Homo sapiens: one gene and its partners. The protein of the gene in region 6 interacts with the protein of the main gene of each other region in a biochemical or structural test. Each region holds a gene or a part of one and is shown on either strand. Other genes may lie near its edges.

The links.
Region 1: the proteins of APBB1 (region 6) and SF3A1 form a complex in vitro, tested with the Homo sapiens proteins (one study listed by BioGRID).
Region 2: the proteins of APBB1 (region 6) and SF3B1 form a complex in vitro, tested with the Homo sapiens proteins (one study listed by BioGRID).
Region 3: the proteins of APBB1 (region 6) and WIPF1 form a complex in vitro, tested with the Homo sapiens proteins (one study listed by BioGRID).
Region 4: the proteins of APBB1 (region 6) and WBP11 form a complex in vitro, tested with the Homo sapiens proteins (one study listed by BioGRID).
Region 5: the proteins of APBB1 (region 6) and KHDRBS1 form a complex in vitro, tested with the Homo sapiens proteins (one study listed by BioGRID).
Region 7: the proteins of APBB1 (region 6) and DIAPH2 form a complex in vitro, tested with the Homo sapiens proteins (one study listed by BioGRID).

The regions. Positions count from the first base shown.
Region 1 is NC_000022.11:30,346,895-30,350,394, forward strand, and holds part of SF3A1 (splicing factor 3A subunit 1), read right to left. Parts: intron 1-3,500. UniProt on the Homo sapiens protein: Component of the 17S U2 SnRNP complex of the spliceosome, a large ribonucleoprotein complex that removes introns from transcribed pre-mRNAs.
Region 2 is NC_000002.12:197,428,529-197,432,028, reverse strand, and holds part of SF3B1 (splicing factor 3B subunit 1), read left to right. Parts: intron 1-3,500. UniProt on the Homo sapiens protein: Component of the 17S U2 SnRNP complex of the spliceosome, a large ribonucleoprotein complex that removes introns from transcribed pre-mRNAs.
Region 3 is NC_000002.12:174,580,805-174,584,304, forward strand, and holds part of WIPF1 (WAS/WASL-interacting protein family member 1), read right to left. Parts: intron 636-3,500; coding exon 506-635; intron 1-505. UniProt on the Homo sapiens protein: Plays a role in the reorganization of the actin cytoskeleton. Contributes with NCK1 and GRB2 in the recruitment and activation of WASL.
Region 4 is NC_000012.12:14,796,979-14,800,478, forward strand, and holds part of WBP11 (WW domain-binding protein 11), read right to left. Parts: intron 2,751-3,500; coding exon 2,657-2,750; intron 26-2,656; coding exon 1-25. UniProt on the Homo sapiens protein: Activates pre-mRNA splicing. May inhibit PP1 phosphatase activity.
Region 5 is NC_000001.11:32,020,368-32,023,867, reverse strand, and holds part of KHDRBS1 (KH domain-containing, RNA-binding, signal transduction-associated protein 1), read right to left. Parts: intron 1-3,500. UniProt on the Homo sapiens protein: Recruited and tyrosine phosphorylated by several receptor systems, for example the T-cell, leptin and insulin receptors. Once phosphorylated, functions as an adapter protein in signal transduction cascades by binding to SH2 and SH3 domain-containing proteins.
Region 6 is NC_000011.10:6,398,595-6,402,094, forward strand, and holds part of APBB1 (amyloid beta precursor protein binding family B member 1), read right to left. Parts: coding exon 3,488-3,500; intron 3,389-3,487; coding exon 3,383-3,388; intron 3,095-3,382; coding exon 2,980-3,094; intron 2,836-2,979; coding exon 2,751-2,835; intron 2,479-2,750; coding exon 2,395-2,478; intron 1-2,394. UniProt on the Homo sapiens protein: Transcription coregulator that can have both coactivator and corepressor functions. Adapter protein that forms a transcriptionally active complex with the gamma-secretase-derived amyloid precursor protein (APP) intracellular domain.
Region 7 is NC_000023.11:97,601,342-97,604,841, reverse strand, and holds part of DIAPH2 (protein diaphanous homolog 2), read right to left. Parts: 3' UTR 1-3,500. UniProt on the Homo sapiens protein: Could be involved in oogenesis. Involved in the regulation of endosome dynamics.

The DNA of each region.
Region 1 (3,500 bases), on a different chromosome or scaffold from region 6:
AACAAAAGGTAGTCAAAAGTGAACATAATGAAAACAAAGTAATACTGTCAAAGTTTAGCTGGAAGTTTGCTGAGACTAATTCTCTTAGTTCAAAGGGGTAGCAAGTGCTGGAGAGGTGTAAAAGGTACATGAGCACCAAACCTAGACTTTGTCCTCTGAGTAACAAGAAAGACTGAAAGACATGAAAATTTAGTTGATTTGAGCCTGGGCAACAAGAAAAGACCCTAACTCTACAAAAAAATATAAAAATAAATTAACTGGGCATGGTGGTGTGTGCCTCTAGTCCCAGCTACTCAGGAGGCTGAGGTGGGAGGATCACTTGTGCCCAGGAGTCTGAGGCTGCAGTGGGCTAGAATCGTGTCACCGTATTCCAGCCTGGAAAACAGAGCAAGACCCTGTCTTTAAGAAACAAACAAACAAACAAAAAACAAATAGTTGGTTTAACGCCTTGTCCAAGTACTCCCTAAAACCACCCCCATTATACTGGTGAGGCCCACACAGGAAACATCCTCAGCAAAAACCCAGACTCGTACAGCTGTATAAGGCACCTTCAGATGACAGGGGTGTGGTAAGATCAGCAGGGAGGTCTCCAACCACTGTCTGTACCTGGGATGGTTCCCCAGATATGCCCCATGTCCCCAGCAAGCCTTCAAAACCTCAGGATAATGAAAAAATGTCCCTATAATGATGTTTAGGGAACCCTGATTTTTAAAATGTCCCAACAGTAATATTCAAAGTGCCACACTTATATACAACACCTGTGTCAGTCAGAAAGTACACGGACCTTAAAGACACAAGATATGAACACGTTCAAGTCTCAGGTTCACTGCTGACTCACTCTGACCCACAGCAAGTTACCAAACTACTCTTTGCTTCCATTTCCCCATGTGTAAAATGCAGCTAACACCAGTTTCCCTTTCTACCTTGAAACATTATTGAGGAGATGCCAAAGTGTTTTTGTTTTATAGACAGGGTCTCACTCTGTCACCCAGGCTGGAGTGCAGTGGTACAATCTCAGCTCACTGCAACCTCCACCTCCTGGGCTCAAGGGATCCTCCCACCTCAGCCTCCTGAGTAGCTGGGACTACAGGCATATACCACCATGCTCGGCTAATTTTTTTTTTACATTTTGTAGAGACGGGGTTTCACCATGTTGCTCAGGCTGGTCTCAAACTCCTGCGCTTAAGCGCCTTGGCCTCCCAAAGTGATAGGATTATAGGCGTGAGCCACTGAACCCAGCCCTCAAAGTCTTTTCAAATCGTACAGTGGCCTGCAAATGCAAGGGGCTAGGAGGGGTTGTTCCATAAACATTGTCTGTGGGGCCTTCCATTGCTCCTCTGGCGAGAACCTTGTACTTAGAACTGCCCCAAACACACCAAGGCATGGCCCCGGCATCTGGTGCCAGCTAGCCAGCTCCACTCTTCAGACTTTCATATCCCTGGCCTGTGAGTTTAAGAGGGGGTGGGAGCCCGGCACAGTGGCGCACACTTGTAGTCCCAGCTACTCAGGAGGCTGAGGCGAGAGGATCACTTGAGCCCAGAAGATCATACCCAAGCCTGGGCAACAAAATGAAATTTCACCTCTGAAAACAAAAATTTTTTAAATTTTTTTTAAGACAGATGGCAGGAGACAGGGTACAGGCAGTGCTGTGCCCCAGATCAACCACCACAGCAATTATGTGCCACACTAGTGATCGACACCCAGGCTGGCTCCTCAGCAAGTCGTGGTCATACCCTGCCGTGTAACTAACACCATGAGGTCTCAATTTGACAGTATATTAGTCTAACTGGAACCTCATGCTTTGGAAAAAAAATTCTCCCTACTCCTTAAATAATGCAAACCACACATAAGAATGAAGGTGAATGCACACTTAAATCCTGCTAAACTAGGCCACTATACCCAGCAAATGCCTCGGGCAGACAAAGGGCTCCTGGAAAAAGGGGCCCTGGTTGTCTCCTGTACCACTGCCTAAGCCATAACTTTACCCCATCTGGGAACAATCTGAAAAATAAAACAATGAGAAGGCTTGGCATGTTCATTCCAAGCTATTCAGTTGCTTTAAATTAGCTTAACGTTAATTTTAGAATCATACTCTCCACCAGAAGGAATAGATTTCAACAGAAAAAGACATGATTCTGACTCAACCCAGCTGGTGGGACTTTTTAAGGGTAATTTCCACTTCAGTTTCTTGACAGGAACATGCAGGAAATGAAAAGGCCTAACCTAGCGAAAAAACTTTTGGAAAACCGCTCAGTTGTGCATTTCTACTGCATGCTCCATAAATATACGTGAACCCAGGAGAAGTGAAGCACAGAGTTCTGCATGCCTGCTTTAACTCGGATATTGGTCTCTTTGTTGCAATGTAAACGATAAGTTCACAGATTTTATTTATTTATTTACTTTTGAGGCGGAGTCTCGCTCCGTCACCCAGGTGGGAGTGCAGTGGCACAATCTTGGCTCACTGCAACCTCTGCCTCCCGGGTTCAAACGATTCTTCTGCCTCAGCCTCCCAAGTAGCTGGGACTACAGGCGCCCGCCACCACACCTGGCTAATTTTTTGTATTTTTAGTAGAGACGAGGTTTCACTATGCTGGCCAGGCTGGTCTTGAACTCCTGACCTCAGGTGATCTGCCCACCTCAGTTTCCCAAAGTGCTGGGATTACAGGTGTAAGCCACCACACTGGCTCACAGATTTTAGAAATGCCTACAAAAGCAATCACCATAGCTAAAAATCAATCTAGGGATGTGCATGGTTTTGGATTTTTTTCTTTCTTTTTTTTTTTTTTTTTGAGATAGGGTCTTGCTCTATCGCCCCAGGCTGGAGTACGCTGGCATGATCATACCCTTGACCTCTCAGGCTCAAGTGATCCTCCCAAGTGGCTAGAAATACAGATATGCGCCACCATGCCCAGCTAATTTTTTTATTTTTTGTAGAGACAGGGGTCTCACTATATTGCCTACACTGGTGTCCAAGTCCTGGGTTCAAGCGATCCTCCCACCCTGGCCTCCCAAAGTGCTGGGATTACAGGCGTGAGCCACCTAACCTGGTCATATATATTTAAAGGGACCTTGGATATCCTCTTATTTCTTTAGCAGCAGAGGATGGCACAAAATTATTGGAAAGCTACTTGGCAAAATGTTTAAGAAATCTTTTAAGGATGCTCTTTTAGCCAATAATGAGCCACACAGAATTTTCTTCTAAGGAAACGATCTAAAAGGGAAAGAAAATGCTCAGAGATTTCCCCACAGCTTAATTTGCCAAAATGAAATGTTGGGAACAGGCCAGGTGCGGTGGTCACTGCCTGTAATCCCAGCCACCTTGTGGTGGCTGAGACATGAGGATCACTTGAGGCCAGGAGTTCAAGACCAACCTGAGCAACACAGAAAGACCCCATCTATACAAAAAAACTAAAAAAAATAAAAAAAATAAAAAAAAAATTAGCTGGGTGTGGTGGCAGGCACCTGTAGTCCTAGCTACTCAGGAAGCTGAGGTGGGAGGA
Region 2 (3,500 bases), on a different chromosome or scaffold from region 6:
TTCAGCCTCCTGAGTAGCTACAACTACAGGCGTGTGCTACCATGCCTGGCTAATTTTTACAATTTTTTTTTAGAGATGGGGTCTCGCTATGTTACCCAGGCTGATCTCGAACTCCTGGGCTCAAGCAGTCCTGCCTTGGCCTCCCACCGTGCTAGGATTACAGGTGTGAGCCACGATGCCTGGCCTTGAAATTTTTTTTAATAGAATTAATCATTTAGGAATCAATTTATCAGTATTGTTTGTAGTGTTCAGTAAAATGATTTATATTATAGTTAGTTGTCCTATTGGAGTTTTGTTTAATGAAAAAGCTGAGGGTTGGGATTCAGAATATACTTCCTGTTTTTCTGTGATGTCTTTTAGAAGCCTTGTATTTTGGAAATAGTTGTTCACCGGTTATATCTGGCTGAAGGAGAGTAGATATCACTTAGGGACCAGACTGAAAGGTGTAGGTGAGACATTAACATCTGAGGGCAGTATCTGTGTAACATGTAATGAGCAGTGATTAGAACACTGAAAATAATTCAGACGAAAAATGAAAAATAAAAATCAAGGAGGAAGAAGTGCTACAAGTTGGGTTTAGCAGGATCTAAGGCTTAGAAAGAAGAAAAGGGCTGGGCATGGTGTCTCACACCTATAATCCCAGCACTTTGGGAGGCTGAGGTGGGCAGATCACCCAAGGTTAGGAGTTCCAGACCAGCCTGGCCAACGTGGTGAAACCCCCTCTCTACTAAAAGTACAAAAAAATTAACCGGGCATGGTGGCGTGAGCCTGTGATCCCAGCTCCTCGGGAGGCTGTTGCAGGAGAATCGCTTGAACCCAGGAGGCGAAGGTTGCAGTGAGCTGAGATCACGCCACGCCACTGCACTCCAGCCTGGGCGACTGAGTGAAACTCTGTCTCAAAAAAAAAAAAAAAAAAAAAAAAAAGAAGAAAAGGCACAGGAGGGGAAATCAGAGGGACAGAATTGGTGGGGAGCAGTTAAATAGTTTTATCAGATGTGACCTTCTGCTATCAGTGATATGAATTGTTTTTCTCAAGAGCTTGATATGTAGGTCTGAGTTTTAAAATACAGGAGGCCAGGGGTTGCTCACGCATGTAATCCCAGCATTTTGGGAAGTCAAGACAGGAGGATTGCTTGAGACTGCAAACATACAGAAAAGTAGAGAGCGGCTGGCGCTATACTCCAGCCTGGGCAACAGAGCAGGACTCTGTCTCAGAAAAACAAAACAACAGGCCGGGCACAGTGTGTGAAGACAGGTTTTAATAACACTAGGGTAGGCTGGGCACGGTGGCTTACGCCTGTAATCCCAGCACTTTGGGAGGCTGATGTGGATGGATCACCAGAGGTCAGGAGTTTGAGACCAGCTTGATCAACATGGTGAAACCCTATCTCTACTAAAAATAAAAAAATTAGCTGGGTTTGGTGGTGCGTGCCTGTAATCCCACCTGCTTGGGAGCCTCAGGCAGGAGAATCTCTTGAACCAGGAGGTGGAGGTTGCAGTGAGCCGAGATCGTGCCACTGCACTTCAGTTTGGGCAACAGAGTGAGACTTTGTCTCAAAACAAAATAACAAAAAAAACTACCGTGAGTAGTAAAATGAACCCCTCATATACTCATCACCTAGCTTCAACAGTTACAAGCTTAGGCCAGCTTTGTTTAATTTGTACACTGGTCACTTCTACTCTTCCCATTATTTTGAAGCAGATCTTAGACATACCACTTTATCCATAAATATTTCAGTATGTATTTCTGTGTAGGGACTTAAAAAGATAATACCATGATTACACCTAAAATTAAAATAATAAAATATCTAGTCACTGTTCTGTTTTACCCATTCTTTTAAACTTTGTTTTTCAGTTTCAGTCAGGCTTCCAAGAAAACTGATAACATTTTGATTGGTTGGTTTCTCTTATATCTTTTTCATTTCACAGTACATTGTGATTTAATGATTTATCTCTTAAATCTTTTTCAGTTCATAGGTTCCTCCTGTCTCTTTCTTTTTCCTTGCACTTCATTTGTTGCAGAACCTTTGTCCTGTGGTTTCGCACAGTCTGGAGGAATTGGGGAAAGTGGCTGTCTAAACTGGTTCCCTCCTTCCCATTACTGCTGCAATCAAGATGTTAGGGGGCCTACAAGCAATGGAAGCACCCAGAAAATTATTGGCTCTAAGTATGAGCATAGTTCTGAAATCATACTTCAGGTTTAGATTGTGCTAGTCATGGGAAGGAAATTTTTTTTTTTTTTTTTGAGACAGAGTCTTGCTCTGTTGTCCAGGCTGGAGTGCAGTCGCACAATGTCGGCTCACTGCAAGCTCCGCCTCCCGGGTTCAAGCGATACTTCTGCCTCAGCCTCCCGAGTAGCTGGGACTACAGACGCGCGCCATCACACCCAGCTAATTTTTGTATTTTTAGTAGAGATGGGGTTTCACCACATTGGCCAGACTGGTCTCGAACTCCTGACCTCAGGTGATCCATCCACATCGGCCTCCCAAAGTGCTGGGATTACAGGCGTGAGCCACCGTGCCGGCCTGCCTTAGTGTTATTAAAACCTGTCTTGACACAAAAACCTCTAAACAAATGTTTACAGTAGCCTTACTTGTAATCACTGCAAACAGCTCGATGTACTTCAGCTAGAGAATGGATAAACACACTGTAGTACAATGGAATACTACCCAGTAATAAAAAGGCAGAAACTATTGATGTGCACAACAGTGTGGAAATTGGAATATTTAAGGGTTTAAATGGGTTAAAGAGTGCCAGCTTTTGGCAGTTTTGTGTGGCCAATAGGAAGTCCTAGTCTCTTCTTGCTCAGTCACTAGCAGACAGTATCCCTTTTTTCTTTGTCTTCACATCTGAATGTATTGAACTATGAGTCCAAACTGGGAAGGGATTAGGCTGGAACAGGATTTGTTCATTTTGGTCATAATTGAAGTTGGAAGAGATTATTAGCATAGACGTTTCTTTGCCTCAAGTCTTCATTGTTTTTGACCTCTGGTTACTCATTTTGGTATGTTCTCTCATTTTTTATTTTCATAGTTGCCAACCCCCGCCTTTTTTTTTTGAGATGGAGTTTCACTGTGTCGTCCGGGCTGGAGTGCAGTGGCGTGATCTTGGCTCACTGCAACCTCTGCCTCCCAGACTCAAGCGATTCTCTTGTTGCCCAGGCCAGAGTGCAGTGCTGTGATCTCGGCTCACTGCAACCTCCACCTCCCAGGTTCAAGCGATTCTCATGCCTCAGCCTTCCAAGTAGCTGGGATTACAGGCGTGCCACCACCATGTCTGGCTAATTTTTGTATTTTTAGTGAAGACAGGGTTTCACCATGTTGGCCAGGCCGGCTTTGAACTCCTGATCTCAAGTGATTCAACTGTCTTGACTTCCCAAAGTGCTGGGATTACAGGCGTGAGCCACCGCGCTCAGCCAGTTGCCAAGCAGTTTTATGCATTGATCATTTGTTGTCAGAAATGATCTATTTGCATATTTTTAGTCAGTTTATATTTAAGAA
Region 3 (3,500 bases), on a different chromosome or scaffold from region 6:
CACTTTCCAGACAACAAAACATTTTACAGGCATTATCTCATTTGAAGCTCATGACAAACTTGTGAGGTCAATAGAACATGTATTATCATCTCCATTTTAAAATGAAGAAAACAAGGCTTGGAGATGGTACAGGATGGATGTGCCAGGTCTTGAACCCACAGCTTTTGATTCCAAGGCTAGGGCTCTTTCCATATTTTATGCTGCCTCCTCATCTGTGGTGCCAGGAGCAATGGGTTAATCTCCAGAAAGTGTTGTGAATAATGCAGAGAATTGCTGCTGTGTATGTCTTGGACAAAGAATTATTATACTGGCTTCTTGCAGCATTAGAGGGGAACCCAAGCCAAAGCTGCGGCCTACAGGGAGTGATACAGTCCCTTATTTTGCTAGCTTTGCAGCTGTTGTTAACCAAAAAATAAAATAAAATAAAAATTGAGTGGTGAGGGTAGGGTTGATTATTAGGCCATAAACTGTTCCTCTCCATGGTAGATAGCCTTTTTTTACTTACTGTCCAGTATTGGTGCACTTCTGTCATTGGTGACCGTCTTCTTTAGTTTCTTCCCTTTGCTGATATCAGAAAGGAGAGCATTTCTCCCAGCCTGCTCTGTCTTATTCAAGGTAGGCTTCTCTGTATTGGCCTGAAAGGGAGCCATACAAACAAGTAGTCATCTCTTGGGTTAAAATCATGCATTGTAACACTCGGCTGGGAAAGGTTGGGTACGGGAAGCTTGTTGTTAAGGTTCTTGGTGATAGGTTGTAAATTCTCGACAAGTTTTAGACCCCATATCTTTCTTTTTAAGATCCAGACGTTTGGAAGCAGATGCAGCAATAAATTATGTTCATTTTTAAGGGAGGAAGAGTCAGTCCTTGATTAAAGTCTCTGAAAATTCAGACCACAATCTGACTGAAACTAACAGGGCCAGGTTAGGGTGAGATGACTAGACACGAGAAAAGAATTTTAAGTCTGGGAGGATTCTGCAGGACATTACCAGACGTCATTCACTAGAGGGTACCCTGAAGAATAACTTCCTTTTCCCATCTTTTAGAACTACCCCAGTGCAAGGGAAAAACTGTCTCTAGCAAAAAGAGTCAGCTGTATGTTTTTTAAACCCACTAAAGTTCTAGAAAATAATTCCCTCTGTGTATATTGCCAAAGATGCTTTTTTTCTCTTTTTAAGTCAGATTTATTAAGGTGTAATTTACACATAGTGAAATCACCCTTTTTAGTTACAGCTCTATGAGTTTTGACAAACATATACAGTTGTGAAACCACCGTCACAATCAAGATATAGAATATTTTCATTACTTCAAAAGTTCCCTCATGTCCTGTTGGCATGAGGTGTTTCTGATGTTTAATTCTGATGAAAGCTTAGCTCATGGAAATTGTGGAATGGACAAAAATGCTGCTTTAACATGTCTGATTATTTTCTTATATTTCCAGAATTCCTAGGAAAGATCCCTACCTACTATGAAATTGGGATCTTGTTCCTTCAGGGAGTTGGGGACACTAAGAGACCAGCAAATGGACTTAGATGTAGGCACCTGCCTGTGTGCCTGTGTCTATCACACTTGGAAACTGGCTAGGTCTTGTCTGTCTCAGGGAGAGTCTGGCTGCCCCAAACCCACAGGTCCTTTCTAGGCTGGCCCCAGCCCTTCTGACAGGGATATGATTTCAGATTTGCCAGTTAGGGCCACAGGAGGAAAAGCTGGGGAAATGTATGGCTCAATACCTTACCCAGCCTTTAAAAAACAATTTTTTTTTAGAGACAGAGTCTCATTATGTTGCCTAGGCTGGAGTGCTGTGGCTATTCACAGGTGTGATCATCATGCAATACAGCCTCGAACTCTTGGGCTCAAGTGATCCTCCTGCCTCAGCCTCCTGAGTAGTTGGGATTACAGGCACGAGCTACTGCTCCTGGCCTAACTCAGCCTTTTATTAGCAGAGTTAGAGGCAAAGGAAGAACTCAGAAAAACCCTGAAGTAGGCTAACCAGAATTGCAGTGGTAAAGTTGGAAGCATCTTGAAATAACTAAATGATGAAGTATTACTTGCTTATGATAATAATAGTTAACATATACTCTGTGCCAGGCACTGTTTTCAGCACCTTATGTGTATTACTTCATTTAGCCCTTATCAACCCTGTGAGTTATTATTTCCATTTTACAGACAAGGAAACTGAGGTATAGGGAGTTTAAATCATTTGCCCCAGGCACCTAGTTAGTTGAGGAGGAGCTGGGATTCAAACCCTGGCAGTCAAGAGCCTTCCCTACAAGCTGATAGAAGGATAAATGTGGGCTCTAAAATGCCCCTCCCCATCCAGCCCCAACACACCGCTGAAGCATGCTTGTTAAAAGTTTCTCTGCTGTCCTTCCAGAAATGCTCTCTGCATACACAGTTTGCTTTTGCTAATGGGATTCTCCTCTATTGTTCTGCAACTTGTTTGTTTTCAACTTAACATACTTTGGATGTCCTGGAAAAGAGCTCTTAACATTACCTGCTGTCTTCATTTTAAGGATGAAAAAACTCTGAGGCCTAGAGAGGTTAAGTGATGTGTCACACTGGATCTCTTAACAGTTTTGGGTCAGCAACCTTCAGTAGCCTCCTGTTCTGCCTCAAAATTTATTTTGACAGCTGACCTCCCTGGGTGCTAACTTCTCTCATGTTCAGGGCCCTTAATTATGTTGTTTCACAAGGGCAGTGTTCTATGATGGCCACCAACCCACCTTTTCCCTTTCTTCATCTCTATATTCTATTTATCCAAAATCTTGCTTTGAATTAGGTAACAACGGATAGAAATGAGTTGATAAGATAAGCAAGGTTTCCCAAACTTCAAGCATTCTGGTATAAGATTCATGATTTTTGTCATCTTCTCATACCACCTGTGTTATTTATTTAATATTTTTTATTAAGTCAGTTCACTATAGCCCACACTTTTGGGGAAACATGGATAAATGAATCCTGCTATGTAAGCCAGATTGGAGGTTCTCAAACTTACCCATGTGAAGGACCAACTTTTTTTTTGTTTTTTGTTTTTTTGCGACAGAGTCTTGCTCTATCACCCAGGCTGGAGTGCAGTAGTGCAATCACAGCTCACTGCAGCCTTGACCTCCTGGGCTCAAACAATCCTCCCATCTCTGCCTCCAGAGTAGCTGGGACTATAAGCACGCACCGCCATGTCTGGCTGGCTAATTTTTAACATTTTTTTTGTAGATATGGGGGTCTCGCCATGTTGCCCAGGCTGGTCTCGAACTCCTGGGCTCAAGTTATCCTTCCAAAGTGCACGCCTGGCCAAGGACCAGTCTTTTGAAAAATATTTTCATCAGGAACTGACGCTTTTGTAAAATAACAATGAATTATTAGAAAAATGAATTAGTTTTTTAAAAAAGACACACAACATCCAATCTTAGAAACAGAAAACTACTGTCAAATTGCTAGAAATGCTTCTAAATGCTTACTTTCAACTTTTGTCCTCATCACTTTGGGGACTCTTAAAAAGCAGTTGG
Region 4 (3,500 bases), on a different chromosome or scaffold from region 6:
TGTGGCTGTTGCACTGGGTTAAACTCTAAGAGAAAAAGTAGATTATGGAATTAAATATAAGAGGCCACTTCAATTAGGTATCAATAGGTTACATGATAAAAACCTCCATATATGCTAAAAAATTTTTAAGAGATCTAGACACCAGACATACTCTTTTCAATTTTATTCGAAGAACTACAATATTTATTAAAATCCCCACCCTTTTTAGATGGCCACTAATTTTACCTTTCTCAGAAATGCCACCTAATTGACTTTCATCTTCATTGTAATAAAAATCAATTTTCACTGCTCTGTGCTGAAAACCTCGTGAAGATTCTGTCAGATTTGTGTTTACCTACTACGTTAGTCCTGTCAAATTTTGAGATCTTAAGCATTTTACTTGAATTCTCTGATTTTTTGCTTCCTCATCTAAAAAATGGAGACGTTAATCACTTTGTAATAAAGCTATGATGATACAATGGGATTACAAATAAAATATCCAGTGGTGTTTGACTCACCACTTAACTATAATCTTTATAACAGATCCGTATTCCTGGCCTAGCTACTATACAATCCTTTCTCTCCCTAACTAATCATGTGTCAATATGGGGCTTAACTGCAGGTCCTCTATCCCAAGAATAAGACCTCCAGGCCTGCCTGGTCAATCATATCCCCCCATCTTCCTTTTCAGTGAATGACTCAGAGATCAATTAGCACATGATCCAAACTGGGACCAGAACATTCCCTGAGATTTTAAATGTAGATGTGAGAGAGATAAGCTCTCAGATTTTCTTTCTGAATGTGTTATGTAGAGAGAAAACAAACCTAGAGCTGCCTGTGGCCTTGTCTCTCAATCATCACTAATTACACACATATATTCCACCTTCTATCCCAAGGAGTTCATTAGTAGTAAGCTGAATGAGGCTAACAGACATCAGACTAGACAGATGGACAGTACTGATGATGAGACTGGATTTTGAGGCTAGTTTCTCTCAGGGATTTCTCATCTTTTTTTTATGTTAAGACTTCTTAATTAAGACAGCCAATGCATGCTTTTTTCTGCCTTAACTAGTCTGTATTGAGTTTTATAAATTGTAACTAGACCCCTGATGAATAGTATTCTCTTCACCCCTTTCCTTTTTCTTAAAAGAATAACAAATTTATCTTCTTCCTTAAATCCTATTAACTATTATTAATCTTGGCAATTTATTCAAATCCAGAGGGCGTATTCTTACACCATACTAATCCTAGTGTGATTAGTAAAAGCGCTGAATGCCTGAGTTTTAATCTCAGCTTTGCCACTACATAGCAGTGTGACCTTGAGGAAAGCTATGTAATCTCTCCATGCCTGAGTTTTCTTACCTGTATAATAGGGACAGTGCACCTACCCTAAAAAATTGTGACGATTAGAAAACTGGTGGAAAAAAACTGGTGCGTAGGTGTATAGCAAGACAACTACTCAAGAAACCTCAGTTATTCCTATTATCTCCTTTTAAAACAACACATAACATTTGGGGTCATTTAAAGAAGGATTCCCTGATTCCCCAAGGAAAGTAATTATCCCTGCTGATATTTAGACCAGAGGCAGGAAGTGGAATCAGTTACAACTGAACTGGGAAATATCTGGGATCCTGAAGCCTGACCCAGAACTCTTAGCCAGGCTAGCTGCACAGATTCTCCCACATTATTTCAGAAACCTTGTAATAGCCTAATGCCATGACTGAATTTTTTTTTTGTACCCCATTTAATGTATCATTGAGGAGTTTCATTCCATCTCTTTTACTTACTACTCTGTTTTTGGGCAAAACATGGAACTTGTAACGATCACTTTAAAATGCTATTTTACAAAAGTGGCAAAGGGTAGAAGACAAAGTGGCAGAAACTTGACAGGTGAAAAGCACATGGAAGTTAACTAGACTATTTTATTTTCTTGCATGTTTGAAAATTTCTATTAAAAAAACAAAATATTCTACATGTTCTAATATTAAACAGAATGGATATTTGTGGGTTAGGATAAAATTTCCAGTGGCAACATCAATGATTTTCAAACTTAGATGCAAAAAAAGATAACATGCAGCTATTTCATGTGATTCCAGTTATAACAAAGCAGCGATACTTAAAATGCATATGAAGAGTGAATAAAACTATTCTATAAAATGTGAAAAAGGCAGAGAATCCTGGTATAGTATTTTATTATTTGGTTTTTAGGTATTTGATGATTTTTTTCTATATCCTTACTAAATGGATAAGTATCTTTTTGGATCTTCTGATTGGAAAAATTGGAAATTGCCTTATATTCACAGGGGCCTAATACTTAGATTTACATGGTAGTTGCCAACATTAAATAAAAGACGACAAACAAAAAACCCAAGGTTATTTCATAAATCAGATTAAGTCTTCTCCCAAAAAGCAAGCTGGCCAAACTGTGCTTCTGTTATCTCACAATAACAATTAACTGAAAGCCAAATAATCGCTTCCCTCTTATTCTGGTATCTGGGGTCTCCAGTTTGCAACAGCCCTCTAGCACTCCATTTTGTCTCCCTGAAACTAACATTAAATCCAAGCATCAAATGCCATCATGCTGTTCTGTTTTACTTACGCCTATGCTGCTTCACTCGTTACCTGCCTGCCTCTGTACGTGTCAGACTGTTATAGCTGCCTGTTTGTAAATTCTTACCCATTTCATCCAATTTCTCCATGTCTCGGATTATCTGTTTTGGATCCTTCATCTTTAAAACTGCAGCTCGAACCATCATGCGCTGTTTTTTGTTCTTAGAAAAATAAAAGGGCAGATGTCAAGAAGTCAGGCACTCAGGAGTTTTACTTCAACTTGCTTTAAGAATCTAAACAGAATAACTCCTTGGCTTCTGATCACTTGTTTCAACCACCAGAAACAGCTATGTAATTTTTTGCCTTAAAAATGTTTACACTTGTCAAAAAGATAAAGAAATGCTATTTTTAAGATGTGCTTTCTTAGTAAAGTATTTCTTTGAACTCTGAGATCTTTAGCAGTTACTTAAACACACATACACTTTAAATTTCTTTTTTTTAACCCCTTATGTTCTTGAAGACCTTGGGTGATTGTTCCTGCCCCCTGTTGTAAAACCTCTGCTAGTTGAAGTCCAAAGCAAAGGTTGAAGCTAAATTCTAAAATTATATAAAGAATATTTAAAAATTTTGCAGGAGTTAATGCTAAACATGAAAACACAATCGAACATTATTTAAAATCTGTGTTGCTTCAATGTATTATACTATAATACTATAAAGCACAATACTATAAGGCAAATCCTTTCTAATTCTTTTGAAGTACTTTGCCACAAATTCAACAGCTAAGAGGAGAATGCTAATTGGGAAAATGGATATATAAATCTAATATATCTATAAATATTATAAACCTACATATATATATTTAAGCTAATGTAATATATGTAATAGACAGCTAATCAGGAAAATGGATAAAGCTATCTAGCATCATGTTTATTTCCATCCTCATCAGTAGACTTTAAAACAGTTATGTTTTA
Region 5 (3,500 bases), on a different chromosome or scaffold from region 6:
TTAAGTACAATTTATACCCTCAGACACTGGCATGTGGCCTAAAGGTAATAAAAGGGCTTTATGGGTGTCTCAGATGTTCAGTTGTCTGATGGTCTGGTCTTTCTTTTTTCTTTTTCAACTCTGTATGTCTCTCCTTGTCCTTGCTTTCCCCGGAGAGCTAGAGTAGACTGAAATGGGAAGACAAAAAATCAAGGAGGAGCTTCCTAAAAATGGTTTAACCTCAGGCAAAAGTACTTTCTAGACAACCCTTTTGGAACTGACTCCTTTAAGTAATCTTTGCTTGGGTCTCTGGAGACCTTGGATATCCCAAGGGCCAAAGAAAACAAAGCTGAGGTGTAAACAACACAAGAGGTGACCCATTTGTTTCCCAGCCACTCAGAATAATCATATCTTATCCAATGCCTTCTATGCGTCAGGAATTTTGTATTTATTATTTCACTTTGTCTTTGTAACCAGTATTATCTTCATTTGACAGATGAAGAAACCCGGGCTCAGAAAAGCTATATAACTTGTCCAAGATCTCAAAACTAATTAGTGACATAGCAGATACTTAAACCCAAGTCACTTCTTATACCAAAGAAAGTAAATTCAGTTAACCTTTCAAAATTTCCTTCATCTTTTACTATAACTTAACCTTTCCCACCCCCCACTTTTGTTTTTTTTGTAGATTTTATCCCAACCAGACTATAAGCTTCCACGTTGCTTAATATATCTTGGAGGAAAGACAAGGGTTTTGAAGCTAGACAAAGTGGGTTTGATTCCCAGCTCTCCTACATGCTTGGTGTATGACTTTAAAAGAGAATGTTAATAAGAAAAATAGTAAGAAAAAAAGAGAGAGGGCGAAAAAGAGATGTAACTCACACAAAAAAAGTTAATATTAGAGAAGTCTGGGAAAATTATATACCAACTTTATCAACTGGTCTGGCTTAACTAAAAAATCAATACAAATATATCATTAACTGAACTTTTTTTTTTTTTGAGACAGGGTCTTGCTCTGTCACCCACACTGGAGTGCAGTGGCGCAATTTTGGCTCACTGCAACCTCCGCCTCCCGGGTTCAAGCAATTCTCCTGTCTCAGCCTCCCGAGTAGCTGGTGACTATAGGCGCATGCCACCACACCTGGCTAATTTTTGTATTTTTAGTAGAGACGGGGTTTCACCGTGTTAGCTAGGATGGTCTCGATCTCCTGACCTTGTGATCCACCTGCCTCGGCCTCCCAAAGTGTTGGGATTACAAGCGTGAGCCACCGCGCCCGGCCAACTGAACGTTTGATATGGCCTGCATAAGGAACAAGACAATGGTCAAGATTTTCTAAGTATCCAGAGCGAGTATTTCTAGGAGAGCAAGATTCTCAGAACTGCTCTAAAAGGTCAGGGTTCATTTCATACCCTCCTCTAGACTCCCACTATACTTGGTTCTACACTTCTAAACACAGCACTCCTCCTTTGCCTGTTGTTAACAATCTCTGGACTCCTTCCATTGCTGAGTGTCTGTAATTCTTAGTACAGTACAATGCTTGATACACAACAGGCATCTATAATCATTAACCGAATTAAAAGAAATGTACCGGCTGGGGCGCGGTGGCTCACACCTGTAATCCCAGCACTTTGGGAGGCCAAGGTGGGCAGGAGATCGAGACTATCCTGGCCAACATGGTGAAACCCTGTTTCTACTATGGTGAAACCCTGTCTCTACTAAAGATTTAAAGATTTACTCTAGCTAAATCTAAAAACTGGTTGGGCGTGGTGGCGCGCTCCTGTAGTCTCAGCTACTCAGGAGGCTGAGAGAGGAGAATCGCTTGAACCCGGGAGGTGGAGGTTGTAGTGAGCCGAGATCATGCCACTGCACTCCAGTCTCCAGCCTGGGTGACAGAGCAAGACTCCATCTCCTTAAAAAAAAAAAAAAAAGAAATGTGCCGCTGGGTGTGGTGCCTCACGCCTATAATCCCAGCACTTTGGGAGGCTGAGGCAGGCAGATAACCTGAGGTCAGAAGTTCAAGACCAGCCTGGCCAACACAGTGAAACCTTGTCTCTACTAAAAATACAAAACTTAGCCAGGCGTGGTGCCGCCTGCCTGTCAAAAATTAGCCAGGTGTGGTGTCATGCGCCTGTAATCCCAGTTACTTGAGAGGCTGAGGCACAAGAATCGCTTGAACCCGGGAAGCAGAGGTTGCAGTGAGCCAAGATTGCGTTACTGCACTCCAGCCTGAGTGACATAGTGAGAACCTGTTTCAAAAAAAAACAAATACAAAAAAGTATGGTTAACACCCTCAACTTCCCTTAAACAACTCACATGACTTTATCATCCCCAAATTTATAATTCTCAACTTTTCTGTTGGTATCATCTTTTGGAATCAGAAGTCCCATAAGCTTACTATTGCAAAACAACTTCATTTGTTTTATTTATCAAATTACTTATTGTTTCAAGCAAGAGCACAAAGCCAATAGGTTCTTTATTTTTTTTGGAATCATGGGTCCCTCTGAGAATTTGATGGAAGCTACTGATTAGCAACCCAGAAAAAAATATAAACTCATAATATATTATATACAATATTGGCTATGGGTATAGAAAGGCTGGGTATTGGTTAAAAAAAAATCCCCCAAAGGCCTGTTACAAGCCCTTTCATATGGGCTCAATTTTTACATTCCAGGACAGTAGAAAACTCTGTCATATTGACTATGGTCTCCCAAATCTTTTCCTTAGTGCACAATTTAGAGCTTTGCAACTTTGAAAATTTTTTTTTTTAATTTTAAGGCAATTTTAGATTTATATGCAGTTCTAAGAAATAACAGAGATCCTGTATACTTTAGTTTTCCCCATAACATTTTGCATATCTGTATCACAATCAGAAAATTAACATTAAAATAAGAAAATTTGTTGTACAGGTTTCATGGAAAAAAAATTAACAATTGACTTTATTAGGATTTCACCACCTTTACATGTACTTGTTTGCTTAGTTCTATGCAATTTAATCAGACTCATGTGACCACCACCTCAGTCAAGATACAGAACAGTTCCATCATGAGGATCCTTACCCTTTGATAGCCAGTCACCGTTTTCCCTCATCTCTCACCACTGGCAACCACTAATATAGTCTTCATCTCCACTATTCTGTTTCTTCAAGAATGTTATATTAATGAAATCATATAGTATGTAACCTTTTGAGATTGGCTTTCTTCACTCAGCTTAATTCTCTTGTGATCAAGCAAGTTGCTGCATTTATTAACAGTTCCTTTTTTTTTTTTTTTTTATTGCACAGTACTGTTCCACTGTATGGGTGTGCCAGTTTATTGGAGGCATTTGGTTTGTTTCCAGTTTTTGGCTACTATGAATAAAGCTGCTGTGAACATTCATGTACAGGTTTTGTGTTGAGTTTTAATTTCCCTGAAATAAATACCCAAGAATGCAACTGTTGAACGATACGGTAAGCACGTTTTTTTTTTGAGACAGGATCTCACTGTTGCCCAAGCTGGAGTGCAGTGGCACGATCTCAGCTCAA
Region 6 (3,500 bases):
GGGAATGGGGGTAACAAATGGAAGAGCCAACAAGGGTTTAGAAGTTGAGGACGAGAAGGAGGAAAGCAAAGGCGTAAGGGTCAGCATGCTTTTCTCACCTCCAGCTCCAAGTCTTTGGCAGTGCCATCGAATCCAAATGAAATACCCACTCCACTCTGCAAATCCAAACCTTCTTTCAAAACCTCAGTTCAATCCCCACCTTTTCTAAGAAGGGTCCCCTCTTTCAATGTAAGATTTTGGACGTGAAAGTCAGCACGGTATAAGGGAAAGTGCAGAGAATTAAAGATGACCGGGGTTTGACTCCCAGGTCTAGCTTTCCTGGCCATGTAATCTGAAGCAAGTCTCATTTATTCATTAATTCATTTTTTATTTCATTCATCAAACATTTGTTGAGTTCTTCCTGTGTGTCTTTTGACATGATACCCTACCACTTCTTTTTCAAGTAGCCTCTTTTCTTCTTCCTGCCTCTCTCCAGTTGTCACTATCCTTGGCAGTTTCATCCTCTACACATCCATTGAATGTTGGAGGGCCTCAAGGCTATGACTAGCTTCATTTCCCTTCTCACTTCAGGATGCCCACTTTCCAGGGCCAAGCTACTCTACATCCATGGCTTTGATTACCTCTACAACCCAATAATGCCAAAACTCCTATCTCCAGCCCAGACCTCTCCTCTCAGCTCCAGATCTGTGAATCTAACTGCCAACCTGACTTTGCCTCTCAGATTCCCCAAAGGCATCTCAAACTCAGCATGTCCAAAAGTGAGCTCACAATCTCTACGCTCAAATTGGCCTCTTCAAGCATCTGCCACCTTGAAAGAAATAATCCACTATCCAGAAGGTCCAACAGCCAGGAACTTAGGAGTCATCCTTGTCCCTCACCCACATCGAACCAATCACTGAGGCCTGTTGACTATACCCGTCTAAACAGCTCTTGAATCCACGCACTCTTCTTCAGCTCCATTGTTGCCCAAGATACTCTCATTACTGGCCAGGACTACAGCAAGAGCCTCCTAACTGAGCTGCTCACATCCACCTCCACCCACTTAACAGTCCCCTCCATGAAATAGCCAAAGTGAGCTTTCAAAATTCAAATCTGATTAAGGCAAGTGCACTCTCGGAGACTTCAATAACTCCTTGCTGCCCTTAGGATGAAGAAAAAATCATTAACATAGCCCCTGAGGTCCCTGACCTGGCAGCCTGACCACTGCCCAGCTGTCGGCCTCATCTTGCATTGGCCTTCTTTCAGTACCTTGGAAATGCCAAAGTGCCTCCCACTGTAGACCCTGATCTTCCCCCATCCCACCCCCACCTCCATTCCACTTGACCGCATTCACTTCTACTTATTTTTTGGATTTCAGTTCAAATGTCACTTTCACAGGGAAGTCTTTTACAACCTCAGACTAGATGAAATTCCTTTGTTATATCTTGCTACTTTCTCTCAACGAATAACTCACACATTTATTTGTGTGATTATTTTATTAATTCCTGGTTTTTTTCTACCATAACCTTCTATAACCTCTAGGAAAATGGGACTGTGGCCACTGTTCTCCCTGTGCCTAGTCCAGGGCCTGCCACATGGTAAGCTTCAAAGGTATTTGTTAAGTGAATAAACAAATAAATAGCAGACACTAGGAAAGCACTGAAATATAAGAGTTAACCAGATCAGGCCAGGCACAGTGGCTCACGCCTGTAATCCCGGCACTCTCAGAGGCCGAGGCAGGTGGATCACTTGAGGTCAGGAGTTCAAGACCAGCCCTGGCCAACACAGTGAAACCCCGTCTCCACTAAACATACAAAAATTAACCAGGCGTGGTGGCGGGAGCCTGTAATCCCAGCTATTCAGGAGGCTAAGGCAGGAGAATTGCTTGAACCCAGGAGGCGGAGGTTGCAGTGAGCTAAGATCACGCCACCGCACTCCAGCCTGGCGGACAGAGCGAGACTTGTCTTTAAAAAAAAAAAAAAAAAAATTCTTTGCAACAATGAAGTATGTGACAATTATGCTCACTGTTTCCTTCTCCAGATGCTCCCAGCCCACAGCTGGTGCTGTAACACTAAACCCAGCTACAGGCTGCTGTCTGGTGTCCTCCAGTCATCTAACATCAGCCTCCCAATCCCACCAAAGCTTTTCCATGGGATGAAGGAGTGGGGTCTCCCTTTGTGCCTGGTTCAGCACCACTCACGTGGCTGATGCTCAGCGAAGGCGTGCTGACTGCTGCTATAGGCAGGACAGGAAATAGAGCTAGGACAGAAGTATGGGGAGGTGGGATGCATTTTAAAGGGTAGGGAGACACCAAGCATGAGGAAGGTCTGGTAGAAGAAGTATTGGAAGGCAGAGGGTAGGGGCAGAGTTTTAGGATCAAGGTAGCAGCCCCTGGGTATAGAAGGACACACATACCAACAGGTTTAGCAACAGGTACATTCCCCAGGTAATAGACTTGGAACTTCTGGACCAACTCATTCTTAGGCGCTGGGAATTCCACTATGGGAAAGAAGAGAAGGTTGATCATGGTGGCAGACCTTGCTCACCCGCAGCCCCACCAGCAGGGCATAAGCTGGACACTTGCCCAGCCGAGGCCCTACTTTCATCTCGTCCCCTGCCTCCCTTTAACCGGAGTCCCTCCACGTATTGGAGTATTCAGTCTTCATGTGTTCATTTTTCTATCAGCGCTGTCCAGGAGCTCATGCCTTTCCTTGGGTCACCCACCTTTGCCAACAAAGCTGAGCTGGACCTGGAGGGGTTTTGACACTGACCTTGGAAAGGGACATCCACAAGTTTAGAGTGGTCCAGGGAGAGTCCATTTACCAAGCAGCGGGCATTACGCCGTTCGGCCATGATCTGAGGAAGGAAGGGAGGCGAGGAGCCAGGGAGAATCTATTAGAGCCTCATTGCCCTGGGGCCCCCCTACAGCACTCAGTGACCCCACCCACACCCTTGTAGAGCAAAGGTGGCAACTAGTCCAGGGAGTGGAGGGGGCCGTGCCTTAGAGCAGATCTCATGCAGGCTGGTGGCGATGTTCTTGGCAGGTGCCTCACAGCGAAACACGTGGCACTTGAGCATCTGGGTCAGCTTATCACGAGCTACGTAGGCAAAGTCCCTGTTGGGGAAGGGGCACCTCAGTGTCTCCCAGTACCATCCAGTGCTGAGCCTGGTCCCCACCCCACCCACGTCCTCCCTGCCCATCACAGCTCCTCCAGGGCTTCTGCCCACAGCTGGTCCCCCATAGGTGCTGCCTTCTTGGGGGGGAGGGGTAGACAGGCAAGCATGCTGAGGTGGAGGGTAATGGTGGAGCATAGCGGGTGGGAAGGGGCAGGGCAGAAGAGGGGAGCTTGGGTGCTTCCAGGCATCTGGTCCAGGTGTAGGAGGGGGAAAATAGGCATAGTACCTCTCTCTGGGTCCAGCAGCACAAGAGAGGCAAATAACAGAGTTAGAGAGGAGGACTCTGATGCTGGATGAACTCCCACCCTCGAATCCCAAGCCCTATTCCCACCTTCCACTGTCCC
Region 7 (3,500 bases), on a different chromosome or scaffold from region 6:
GCTTGGTATGGACACAATCTCCCTCAATACCCATTCAAAGCAGTCTTTGCTTTCACCTCTCCCTTTAGGTGAGGGATTCACGGTATGTAAAATAAGCTTGTAAAGAACCCTTCTGTATCAGAGGTAGTTTTGTGCCTGCACTGTGAACCATAGAAGGCATTTGGTCAAAGGTGTCATAAAAGGGGCAGAAGAGGTACATCAGAGCACAGAGTTGGGATCGATTATTTTTTTCAAGTTAATTGCCCATAGTAGCAAAAGTATCAACCAAAATTTAGAATAGCCTGTCCATCCATTTAACAACAGAGCATGCAGCAGCCTGTGCAGACAATAGCTTTTAGAGACAAACTTCGATCTGGTTTGAGCACCAAGAATGCATCTTAAAAAGTGAAAAATTCATTTGTGTGCAATGAATAGTGTAGTGAGCTGCATGGTGCCCCCTCCCCAAAAAAGATATTCAATATCCTACTCCCTGGAACCTGTGATAGTACCTTATTTGGAAAAAAGGTCCTTTCAGATATAATTAAGAATCTTGGAATAAGGGAATTATCATGGGTAATCTGGATGGGCCCTAAGTCCCGTCACAAGTGTCCTTATAAGAGAGAGGCAGAGGTAGATTATATATACAGAGGGGAAGTGATGTGAAGACAGAGGAGAGGGAGATGCAGTCACAAACCAAGGAATGATGGCAGCCACAAGAAACTGGAAGACACGGGAAGAGTGTTTCCCTTAGAGTCTCCAGAAGACGTTCAGCCCTGCCAACCCCTCAATTTTGGACTTTTGGCCTCCAAAACAACAAGATAATAAATTTCTATTGTTTTAAGCCACTGGGCTAGAGGGTAATTTGTTACAGCAGCCATGGGAATCTAATGCAGATTGTGGAACTGGGACGGATTGGGTACTTCTGTAACAAATGTCTTAAAATGTGAAAAAGGCTTTGGAATTGGATAATGGGTAGAGACTAGAAGAATTTTGGTGGCTGTGATAGAAAAAACTAGATTGCCTTTACCAGATGGTAGTAGTATGAATGTTAAAGGCATTTCTAGTGATGGTTTAGAAGGAAATGAAGATTTTATTGGAAAATGGAAGAAAGGGAATCCTTGTCATATAGTGGCAAAAAGTTTATCTATCTAAATTGTCTACTACAGTAGTGTGAAAAGTTGAATAAATGATGAACTTGGATGTTTAGCTGAGGAAATTTTCAAGTCTAGTGTTAGAGATATAGCTTAGTTTCTTCTTAGTGCTTATAGTAAAATAAGACAGAAAACAGATACATTGACAAAACAGGCTGGGCATGGTGGCTTACACCTGTAATCCGGCACTTTAGGAGGCCAAGATGGGTGGATTGCTTGAGGCTAGGAGTTCGAGAGCAGCCTGGACAACATAGCAAGATCAAGTCTCTACAAAAAAATGCAAAAAATTAGCCAGGCATGGTGGCATGCACCTGTAGACCCAGCTACTTGGAAGGCTGATGCAGGAGGATCCCTTGAGCCTGGGAGTTTGAGGTTACAGGGAGCTATGTTTGCACCACTACACTGCAGCCTGGGTGACAGAGTGAGACCTCATCTCTAATACATTAAAAAAAATTTTTTTTTAAAGAGAAAATAACTATATAAGTGGACAAAAGGAATCAGTATCTGATGACTGGGTAAATTCTGAGCCTGAATTCACAATCTGAATGATTGTAAAAAAAAAAAAAGATGCTAAAATTAGGAGATTCACTGTTAGAAAAGTGTGCTCTGTAGATAAGCCCAAGGGTGTGTCTTGACAACCTTTGGCTAGTGCTGAAGAGGTTAGGCATTAACTTGTGGATTTATTTGACTGTTTCAACAGAAGCCAAGAATAGAGATGGGGTTGTTCAGGAAAAATCTGTGAGGACCCTCTTTTCTGAATGTGTGAATCAATGTGACATACGTAGAAGACCCACAAGATTTTTGAGAATGTTCTACCATCAGAAACACTTCCAACTGGGCCTAAAAGGGACAGAGACAGAAAAAAATGAAAGAAGATTGTGAGACTGCCAGAATTCTACAGGTAGGAAACCCGTTGATAAAACTTCTCAGCTGCAAACATGTGCCACCCTTCAAGATAAAGGAAGCACCATCCCGAGAGCAGAGCTGCAGGTACAGAGGCAGAGGCCCAAGTGTGGGAACAGAGGAAGAAGTGCAACCCATAGGCACAGAGGCAGAGGCCCAATCCATAGTCCAAGAAAGAAGAGCTACAGGCCCAAAGGGTGGAGCCCTGAGAAAGAGGATTACTGCCAGGCCTTGAAATATAACAGAAATTTGCCTGGCTAGATTTTGAAAATGATTGGGACAGGAGACTCCATTCCAATTTCCATTCTCTCCTTTTTGAGACAGAAATGTCTGTAACTGTTATCCTATGCCTGTTCCCACCATTGTAATTTGAAAGCAGATTAACTTTTCTGTTTCACTGGTTCTCAGAGGAAGAGGAATTTGGCCTCAGGAAAGACCATACCCAGAGTTTCACTCATACCTGATTTAGATGATCTAAATGATAAGCTTTGGAACTTTTGAACCGATGATATTTGAATGAAATTTTGGACTTAGGATTGATATAATGGGTTGAGACTTTTGGTAATGTTAGGATGGGATGAATGTCTTTTACACATGAGACAGACATAAATTTTGGGCCAAAGGGCAGACTCTGGTGGGCTAAGAGTGGCTTCCTAAAAGACATAGCCACATCCTAATCCCCAAAACCATGAATTTATCTTATTTGGAGAAGGGGGCCTTGCAGATGTAATTAAGTTAAGACTCATGAGGTGAGGAGATTATCCTGGAGTAATCTGGGTAGTCCCTAAAAGTCATCATAAGGATCCTTATTAAACAGAGGCAGAGGCAGATTAGGTATACAGAGGAGGGTGATGTGAAGACACAGCAGAAAGAGAAATGTGGCCATAAGCCAAAAAATGCCAATAGCCACCAAAAGGTGGACGTGGCAAGGAAAGATTCTCCTCTAGAGCCTCTGGAGGGAGCATGGCTTTGCTGCCCTTCAAAAATGTAAGCAAATAAGTTTCTGTTGTGTTAAGCCATCATATTATTGGTGGTAATTTGTTACAGCAGCCAAAGGAGATGATGGATGCAATTAGTTGTTAATATTTTAAGGATTCTGTACCTTTTAAAAATATTCTGAAGAAAATCTGCATAAATGGTGCTTCTCATGTGTGGCAGTAATATGGCCAACAAAAGACCTTAGTGTAATTTGGTTTCATACTAAAAATGTCACTATATACTTTTTTTGGTGATATACTTTCCAATCATCTAAAACAAAACTGCAAATGGCTAGAGCAGGACCATTACAAATCTGGGAAACAAACCTTTTAACTCACTCAACTATTGGAACTTCATGAAAGACCCTGAAAGGTTTTTTTTTTTAATGTTTGTGAAAAGCATGTGGGATTGCTCTAAATAAAAATATATAAGTTATCAATAATAGTACTTCATTCGTTCTTGTTCACAAACTAGAAAATAAGGCAAGTT